3 separate regions of the Homo sapiens genome follow, and all the other regions are linked to region 3. The links come from fine-mapping of genetic effects on gene expression. A gene starts in region 3. Each other region holds a variant in brackets. All regions are shown on one strand. Distances are from middle to middle.

Region 1 (2,841 bases), 20 kb after region 3:
TCGGGGGCTGTGGGAAGAGGGGCGTGGGGAGAGGCCATGGGGAGTGTCTGCAGAGTGGCAGAAACAGGGTGGCCACTTCTCCTGCTTCTCCTGGCCAGCCTCGGCCTGGTGTAATCAGTCATAGTGGCCCTTGTCACTCTAACGTGTTCCTGTTTGGACGATGAATATGGCCATCCTGAGAATGCGAGGGGGCAACAGGGTGTGCGAGGTGGGCTGAGTCCAGGATGGAAAAAGGGTTTCTGCATCAGCTTTGAGCATGCATTGCTGGGCAGAAACCCAAATGGGAGGCTTGGCAGGGGTGGGACATGGAGGAGGGGCTGGCTGTCACCAGGAGCCCACCTGGGTCCCCGCAGAGCCATCAGACAGACCACACTGCCTCCCTGAAGGGGGCAGCCAGAGTGGAGGCCAAGAGCACAGGCTGGAACTGACAGCCTGGGTTCGTTCCTGACCTCCCTGGGCCTCAATTTCCCTATCTGAAGTGTGGCACCTACCTTATTGGCTTGTTAGGAGATTAAATGAACATCTGGAGAGGGCTTAGAACAGGGCTTGGCACAGAGCAAGCACTCTTAAATCTTAAATAAAGTCAGACGGGCCGGGAGCGGTGGCTCACGCCTGTAATCCCAGCACTTTGGGAGGCCAAGGCGGGCGGATCACGAGGTCAGGAGATCGAGACCATCCTGGCTAACACGGTGAAACCTCGTCTCCACTAAAAATACAAAAAATTAGCCAGGCGTGGTGGCGGGGGCCTGTAGTCCCAGCTGCTGGGGAGGCTGAGACAGGAGAATGGTGTGAACCTGGGAGGCAGAGCTTGCAGTGAGCCGAGATTGTGCCACTGCACTCCAGCCTGGGCAACAGAGCGAGACTCCATTTCAAAAAAATAAATAAAAAATAATAATAATAAAGTCAAACGCAGTCACTGCTCTAGTGGTGCAGGGGAAGCCACAGGCCATATAAGTAGAAGCCGGCCAGGCATCTGTGGGGCTCCCCAGACCTTCCTGGGGCCTAGATGGAAAATGAGGGCCAGCAGGGACCAGTGGGGAGGGGTCACTATGGGCCGGGCTGGAAGGTGAGGGGAGTTTGCGGAGGGAAGGCGGCTTCCTCTGCAGGGGCCTGTTCACCACGCTCATGATTCGGAGGGAGGCAAAGAAAGGAGGGGTGTGATGTATGGGAGGAGGATAAATGCATAGAGGGAATACATCGCGTCTTGCCAGATTCGTGCACCTGGATCCAAGTGCAGGAGGTCAGATGTCAAAGTGTGAGGGAGATCGTGGGACGCTCCGTGGGGAGAAGGCAGGTGCTGGGATCAGCAGATGACCTGGCTGCCAGCACAGTGTCCACAGCAAAAGCCCCTGGCCCTGGACACCCAAGTTTATCCTCTAGTGGGAGAGATGCCCTCTGGGAAGGTGAGGGGACATGGCCACCTCGTGGAAGGCAGCAGGGCCCATGGTGTTACTGAGCGCCTGGTCCCACCCTCCCCAGGACCCCAGGGGACGGAGTCGTATGCTCAGCCTCCAGTGAGCAA[G/A]GAAGTCAGCGGGGCTGGGATTCAAACCGACCCTGACCCTGGGAACTGTGAGTCTTCTCAGACCGCTCGGGCCCCCCGCCTGCAGGCAGACCCCAACCTTGAACCCTAGTTGCTGCCAACCCCTCGTTCCCTCCACGGGAAAAGGCAGATGCCAGCGAGGGGGCCTTCAGCAGACAGCTCTGAGCAGTGGGGCTGGGCAGGAGCCAGGCACTGTGCCCACCCAGCCCTGTGCCCCTGAGCCCTGTGCCCGCCCAGCCCCTTGTGTCTCTACACCTGGGAACGATGGGTCTCTTCATCCATCTCTGACGCTTCCTCCCAACACTGCCCACCTAGAAGCCTGCTTAGGGGGCCTGGAGAGAGACCTCCCAGACTCCCTCCCACCACCCTGACCCCCAACTCAGGTGGCAGCCGGAGCCTGGGCGGAGGAATAGAACCTTCTGTCGTTCAGCTGAGCTTTATCACCAGTTTCCTGTTGCTCCATAGCAGCTTCACTGGCGATGGGGCAGGGCCTGGCGGAACTTGGGGCACAGATGAGGGAGGCAGTTCCCAGACACCCAGGGGATCAACTGGAGCCCAGACGTGGACCCCGGGAGTGACCACCCCAGACCAGCCTCCCAGCGTACCAGGCTCTCTGAGACAAGAAGCTGTGTTCCCAAGTCACTGGGCCACCCCACCCAGAGCACCCTGAGTTATACAGACTCGGCAGCCAGCCTCGGCCTCGCCTCTATTTCTGGTTCTGTGGGCTCGCCCCGGGCGCTGAGCACCTCCAGGGCCTCCAGGTTGCCGGGTTCCTCTGCAACAACAGGCAGGGGCTCAGAGTCCCCTTCAGCCTCAGCGTCCTCAGTGTCACTGGCTCCGCCCTCAGTGCCTGGGCCTGACGGGGCAGCTTTAGCACAACGCAGGCAGCAGTTGGTGGCGACAGCCATGAAGACCCCAGCCAGGGCCACCTCAGAGCCGGCCAGGTAGAAGATGATCTCATAGTTCTTCAACACATCCACCAGGCGGCCTGGGGAGGAGGAGGAAGAGGAGGGAGAGGTAAGGTCCTGTGGGGTCCTCCCCTCACTCTCCTGCACTCTCAGGTCAAGGGTGGTGCCACTGACTTGGTGAGGCTCCTGGGTGACACACACATGCCCACTCTTTATTCCTGTTTTACAGATGTAAAACCTCATGTGGATTCTGCCATTTGAAACCTTAAAAATGTCACTTGCTGTCCCTGGACCTCAATTGCTTAAGTGATATGTGGCTTCTGGTGAGGCGTCCCCTCCACCCTCTGATTCAAGCCCCACAAGTGTCCTGTGACTTGCTTGGCAGTGGGGTAT
Region 2 (2,841 bases), 650 kb before region 3:
ACTTAGCCTTGGAAGCAGATCCCCTCAAACCAGCCCACCCGTGCCCCAGGGCAGCGTGCCGGGTCAGAGGAGCTTGATTCTGCAGTCAGACACTTCAGATCTGAAGTGGGTGAAAGTAGAAAAAGTGCAAACAGCCCAGGCACTCACAACAGGGAAATGTCCTTTCAAGAAAAGCCCATTCCAAAGTGGATTAGGACCCAGGTCCCGCCGCACCCCTGAGAAGGGTGCTCAGGGTGCAATCAGGGGCCGCAGGAGGGTGCAGGGCCAGCTGCGAGGAGAATCCCTCCTGGGTAAGAACAGATGGTGTACGTGTGTTTGTAGGTACCAGGAAACACGGGTCAGTGACAGCCTCTGGGGAGGAGGCCTTGGGAACAGGCAGTGGCCCATTCCTTTCTGCTGTGCACGCCGAGAGCATGTGCCAGTTCCCCAGGTATAAGGGGGTTTGTATACTTATGCATTGTTTTACACATACATGCTCCAAAACCCAGCAAATGCACAAAGATCACGAGGGCACACACATACACACACACCTGCCCTTGTGTGCCCAGCTTCCATCCAGCCAGCTCTCTCCTGCGGCCTGAGAGACAGGCGGTTGCGGCAAACAGACGGGGCAGGGCCAGAGAGATGGGTGGGCAGACAGAGACAAAGAGACAGGGAGAGAGAGAGAAACAGAACGAATGAGCTCAGCTCAGGCCCTAGGGTGATCCTGCTCAGAGCAGCCACTTTAGGCTGGTCCAGGGGCTGCGGGAAGTGAAAGTGCCCAAGAGGAAAGCCGGCAAGTCTCCACCCTCAGCCTGGCCACTCACTGCGGTGTGGCCCCGAGCCAGCGCCTCACCTCTCTGGGCTGCAGCCTGCCCACGAGTGCGGGCAGTGGGTGGGAGACCTGCTGGCTCCGACCCTCCAGCACTCCGGGGTCCTGGTTCCCTGTTGAGCCCCCGCTTCCCCTCTCCCCAGATGGTGCTGAGGGCAGCGTCCAGGTCAGCTGCCATCTCAGCCCAGCCAGGAACTCACTCCCAAAGCCCCTCCCTCCCCTGCCATCAGCCCCAGCATCAAATTGGAGAGGGACGAGCCGGGCACTGACCGGAAACCGCAGGCGTGGATACTGCTGTCTTCCTGCCTCATCTCACCTAATCCCCATCACAGCCCTGATCCCATTCTACCACACGAAGCAACCGAGGAGC[G/A]GAGGATGATCGGGCCGGAGCCCCACGGCCAGCGGGGGATGAATATGAATGAGCTGGGATGGAACCCACGCGTCTACTCCAAAGCCCATCGGCTCCTTCCACGACATCCTGTTCGGCAGGCAGTAGGAGGGGCCACAGGGGCAGACACCCCCACATTTCCTGACCTAGCACCCAGAACCGGGACTCCACAGGCCCCAGCCTGTCTCCAGCAGCCTCAGAGGTGACTCTAGAAGGGCCCCTGAAGCCTGCCTCCCTGCTCCGACCACCAGGAAAGCCAGCAAGAAGCCCAGTGCTAGCATTCCTGACTGCACGCCAGGCGTAGCACCAAGTGCTTCATAGTGTCACCCTTGGGTGGTGGGCACTACTTTTATTCCTACTTGACAGGTGAGGACACTGAGGCACACACAGGCGGGGCAACTTGTCATGGGTAGAATTGGGAACTGACAGCTGGGCCCATGGGCCTGATCACTGCATCGCCCCATCCTGTAGCCTGGGAGTTTTTCCACTCTGACCTGCGACCACCAAGCCAAGGAGTGTCTAGCGGGGCAGCAAAGGCCTCACCCCAGAAGCGCTGCTTAGATCAAGGGCCCTTGAGCCACCACCATTGGGGCACCTCAGTGCCAACCCCTCTCTGTAGCCGGTCTCTTCCCAGGATGATGCTTGGGGGTCCCTGGAGAGCCCCCACCTCCATCCTTGAGTCCCAGCCCTGGGTGAGGAGGGGAAGCGGAGAAGGTCTGTGTGCCCCCACAGACCTCAGACAATGTCCTCTGGGACAGGGGCTGTCCTTTGCCTGAGGTCCAGAGGGAGTGTAGGACAAGCAAGACTCACACAGCAAGCGGAGGCAGGAAGGGCAACATAGCCCTTCATCTCTGCCTCCCAGCTTGGCACAGAGGGCACCCTACCTCCTATGCTGGGTGGGTTGAGCTGTGACCCAGTGTGGAGACAGGGATGGGGCTATGGGTTCTCAGTAGCTTCTAGCTTCTCACGCAGCCCCTGGCAACCCTGTGGGCCTACTGTGTGCAGATACTCCTATCTCCAATCCTATTTCACTCCATCCCCTCCAGGAGCCTGGCAGTATCCCCATTTCACAGATAAGAAAACTGAGACCAGGACATGTGACCACTCAGGCGTGGGATCTAACTCACAAGGTCTCACTTCCCACCACCAAACAGGCCTTCCTGCAGCCCCTGCCCCAATCCAACCACTCCCAGCCCTCAGGGACTGCCTCTTCCAAAAAAAAAGTCTTCCCAGAGCTCTTGGAACCTCCGCTCAGAGGACCATCTCTCCTCCGACATTCAGAAAGCAGACTGAGGTTGGGCGCCTCAGTCTGTACACTCAGGCCTGTAATCCCAGCATTTTGGGAGGCCGAGGCAGGTGTATCACTTGAGGTCAGGAGTTCGAGACCAGCCTGGTCAACATGGCGAAACCTGGTCTCTACTAAAAATAAAAATACAAAAATTTTCTGGGCATTGTGGCAGTCGCCTGTAATCTCAGCTTTCTCTCCAGCCTGGGCAAACAAGCAAAACTCCGTCTCAAAAAAAAAAAAAAAAAAGAAAGAAAGAAAAGGAAAAAAGAAAGAAAGCAAACTGAGGCCAGCACACCCACAGTGCCTCCACCCTCAGACTGGGGCTCCTGGGAATTGAGGCTCTATCTCCCTCAG
Region 3 (2,500 bases):
TCCTTGCCTGCACAATGTGGCTGGCAAGATTTGGTCTTCTCTCACAGGGTGGTGGTGAGCTTTCAAATCCTGTGAAAGTGATCTCACAGGAGAGCAGTGGACACGTGGGAAGGCTGTTATTGTCACGGCATTCTGCACATCTGTCCGGACTCAATTAGCCACCTAAGGAGAGAGTAGGGCGGGGCTTCCACCGGCCGTGGGATATGTGGATAATCATCCTTCTGTATCTTTCTTCCATGGCTCCTGGGGCAGCTGGGGAAGCAAGCTGGATGGGCCTGGCCCCATGCTGCCGGATGAGGTGGATGCCTGGCTGTGGCTCTGGGAGAGCCAACCTCCCCCAGGGAACCCACTTTACACAATAGCAGTGGCAGCAGAGGCTGGCGAGGAGACAAGATTCGGACTCTGGGGAGCACTGATAGCATTTCCCGAGCCTCAGGTACATGCGGACCGTGACCCTCCCTGGGACCCCAGGGGGGCTGCTCCTCAGGACTAAGGAAGGAGGAGGGGGTGTGAGAAACCTTTCACCATATACCATAGAAAGCATTTACCTCAATGGCCTTGGTTTACATATGGGGAAACTGAGGCACATAAAGGGAAGGGAGCATGTCCAGTCTGTCCTTAATAGCAAGACCCACTGAATACACCTCTCCTGGCTCTCTGTTTAGTGTTTGGACGTTCAAAGATCCCTAGACTAGGCGGCGGGAGTTTCAGGGCCACGATCCAGATCTTACACCAACTGTGTGTGGCCCCGCACAAAATCACTCCCCGCTCTTTGGCACTTAAGTTGGCGAAACTGGGATGGGCTGGGACCTCAAAGGGCCATTCTAGTAGGGGAGTCACAGGCCCAGGTGGTGAAGGGGTGAAAGGGCATGATGTCTTGGGGTTTATAGTCCACTGAGCCTCGCCGGAGGTAACCCCGGCTCAGGGATGCTTTCGTTGCCATGGCAACCGCCGGGCCGGCGCGGGCCCCTGAGTGCAGCTGAGGAAGCTGGGACAAACCCTGCCCTTCCCAAGATGGCGGCGGCGGCAGGGCAAAGGGCGGGGTTAGACGCTGTCAGCCTGTCCAGACCGTTCCTCTGTTTTCGCTTGTTCCTACTAACAGCGAGCTTCCGCCAATACTTGTTCTCGTTCTTGGTTCCGAGCGTCCCGGGAGCCGGGAAGGGAAGGATTGTCTGCAGGGATTGGAGCAAATATCCAGTGGGGGGAAAGCCGGGACTTCCGCGTCTTGCCGGAAGTGACGTGACAATCGCGGCCACCGCCAGGTGGAACGGCAGGTGGGTTCAGGTACCAGCCTGGCCGGGACCCGGCTGTGGGACCAACGCTTCCGGTGAGCGACAGAGGCAGCTCCCCAGGGCCTGGAGACCCGTGGGGCGGACTCTGGGATCTGAGCCTATCGCCCTGGCCTGGAGCCCCCCTTTGTACCTAGTAAGAATCACCTACCCAGCCCCCCACCCGGAGACTGTCCCATCCCACTCCAGAGGGAAGAGGAGGGCACTGCTGTCCCGTATGAGGTGGTGGAGGGAGGGGTGGCGTTGGCATTTAGGCACTTGGGTTCCTTAAATCCTATGCTCCTTTCTCTCCCGGATCCAGTTCCCCATTCCCCTACCGAGCTGGGCAGTTAGCCAGCCCACTCCAACTCTCGGAACCATGTTTGCAGACTTGGATTATGACATCGAAGAGGATAAACTGTGAGTATTTTATTCCCCCAAGTTCCAGCAGTATAGGAGCCCCAAGTTCCTCATTTCCCTGGACTTCCCAGTCCCACAGACCCTTGCTTCTCAGCGGTGGATCAGTTGTTGTACTGAAGCAGCAATGGACCCTGCTCTCCCAGGAGCTCACTATTTGTAGGGGGCTGTGGACAGTTAAAGGGATAATCACAGCTCAGTGCCATAAGGGCACTATTAGCATGACTTGGTGACAAGAAGAGCAAAGCAGATGGAGCAGTGCTTCTGCTGGGATGGTCAAGGAAAGCTTCATGGAGGACGTAGCAATTGAACCAGGTTTTGAAGGTTGAATAGGAATATTGTAGACACCCTTCCTTCCCAACATAGGTTGTTAGTAGGACAGATTTTCCCATTAGAATATATCCTCTTTCAGATCAAGGAGTGGGTGCAATGCCTTTCTCTATGCTCAGCACTTAGTAAGGGACTTGACGTCAGTAGGTTGTTAGCGAATGTTTTTTGAATGAATAAGTGAATCAGCGTGAGTACTTATCATAAAACACCAGTCAATGCTAATTTATAGTGGAAACCGAGAGGTAATCGAGCAGTTGAGAGGTGGGAGGTGGACAGTTTAATAGAGGAAGACTCCCTGGAGTAGGTGGCCATCATACTACATAGATGCCTGATAAGGTGACAAGGACAGAACCTGGCTCAAATCTCAGAGATCGAATAAATGAAAGGGAAGGGGGACCTATTTTTATGGAGTGCCTGCTATGGACTGGGTTGCTGTTAGTGCCCTCCATGCATGGTTAGAAGAACTCTGATAAGGGTGCTCATCC

The links. PIP is the estimated chance that this variant, and not a neighbour inherited with it, causes the effect.
Region 1: its variant is fine-mapped to the expression of PICK1 in T cells (TOPMed, PIP above 0.99). The same link has a PIP of 0.9 or more in blood mononuclear cells and whole blood.
Region 2: its variant is fine-mapped to the expression of PICK1 in spleen (GTEx, PIP 0.96).

The regions. Positions count from the first base shown.
Region 1 is chr22:38,076,177-38,079,017 of GRCh38, forward strand. SLC16A8 (solute carrier family 16 member 8) reads right to left here. Exons shown (of 6, transcript NM_013356.3): 6 at 1,961-2,528. The coding sequence ends at 2,212. LOC105373027 (a long non-coding RNA gene) reads left to right here and starts at 2,465. Exons shown (of 3, transcript XR_938249.3): 1 at 2,465-2,557; 2 at 2,678-2,771. The variant G/A (reference allele first, on the strand shown) is at 1,523.
Region 2 is chr22:37,409,563-37,412,403 of GRCh38, forward strand. The region is part of intron 2 of ELFN2 (extracellular leucine rich repeat and fibronectin type III domain containing 2); the gene reads right to left. Among named protein-coding and RNA genes, the nearest start is that of ELFN2, 16 kb to the right of the region's middle. RefSeq lists an enhancer at 988-1,489. The variant G/A (reference allele first, on the strand shown) is at 1,182.
Region 3 is chr22:38,056,163-38,058,662 of GRCh38, forward strand. It overlaps PICK1 (protein interacting with PRKCA 1), which reads left to right and starts at 1,242. Exons shown (of 13, transcript NM_012407.4): 1 at 1,242-1,425; 2 at 1,591-1,688. The coding sequence starts at 1,648. RefSeq lists enhancers at 694-1,319, 1,016-1,075, 1,320-1,943.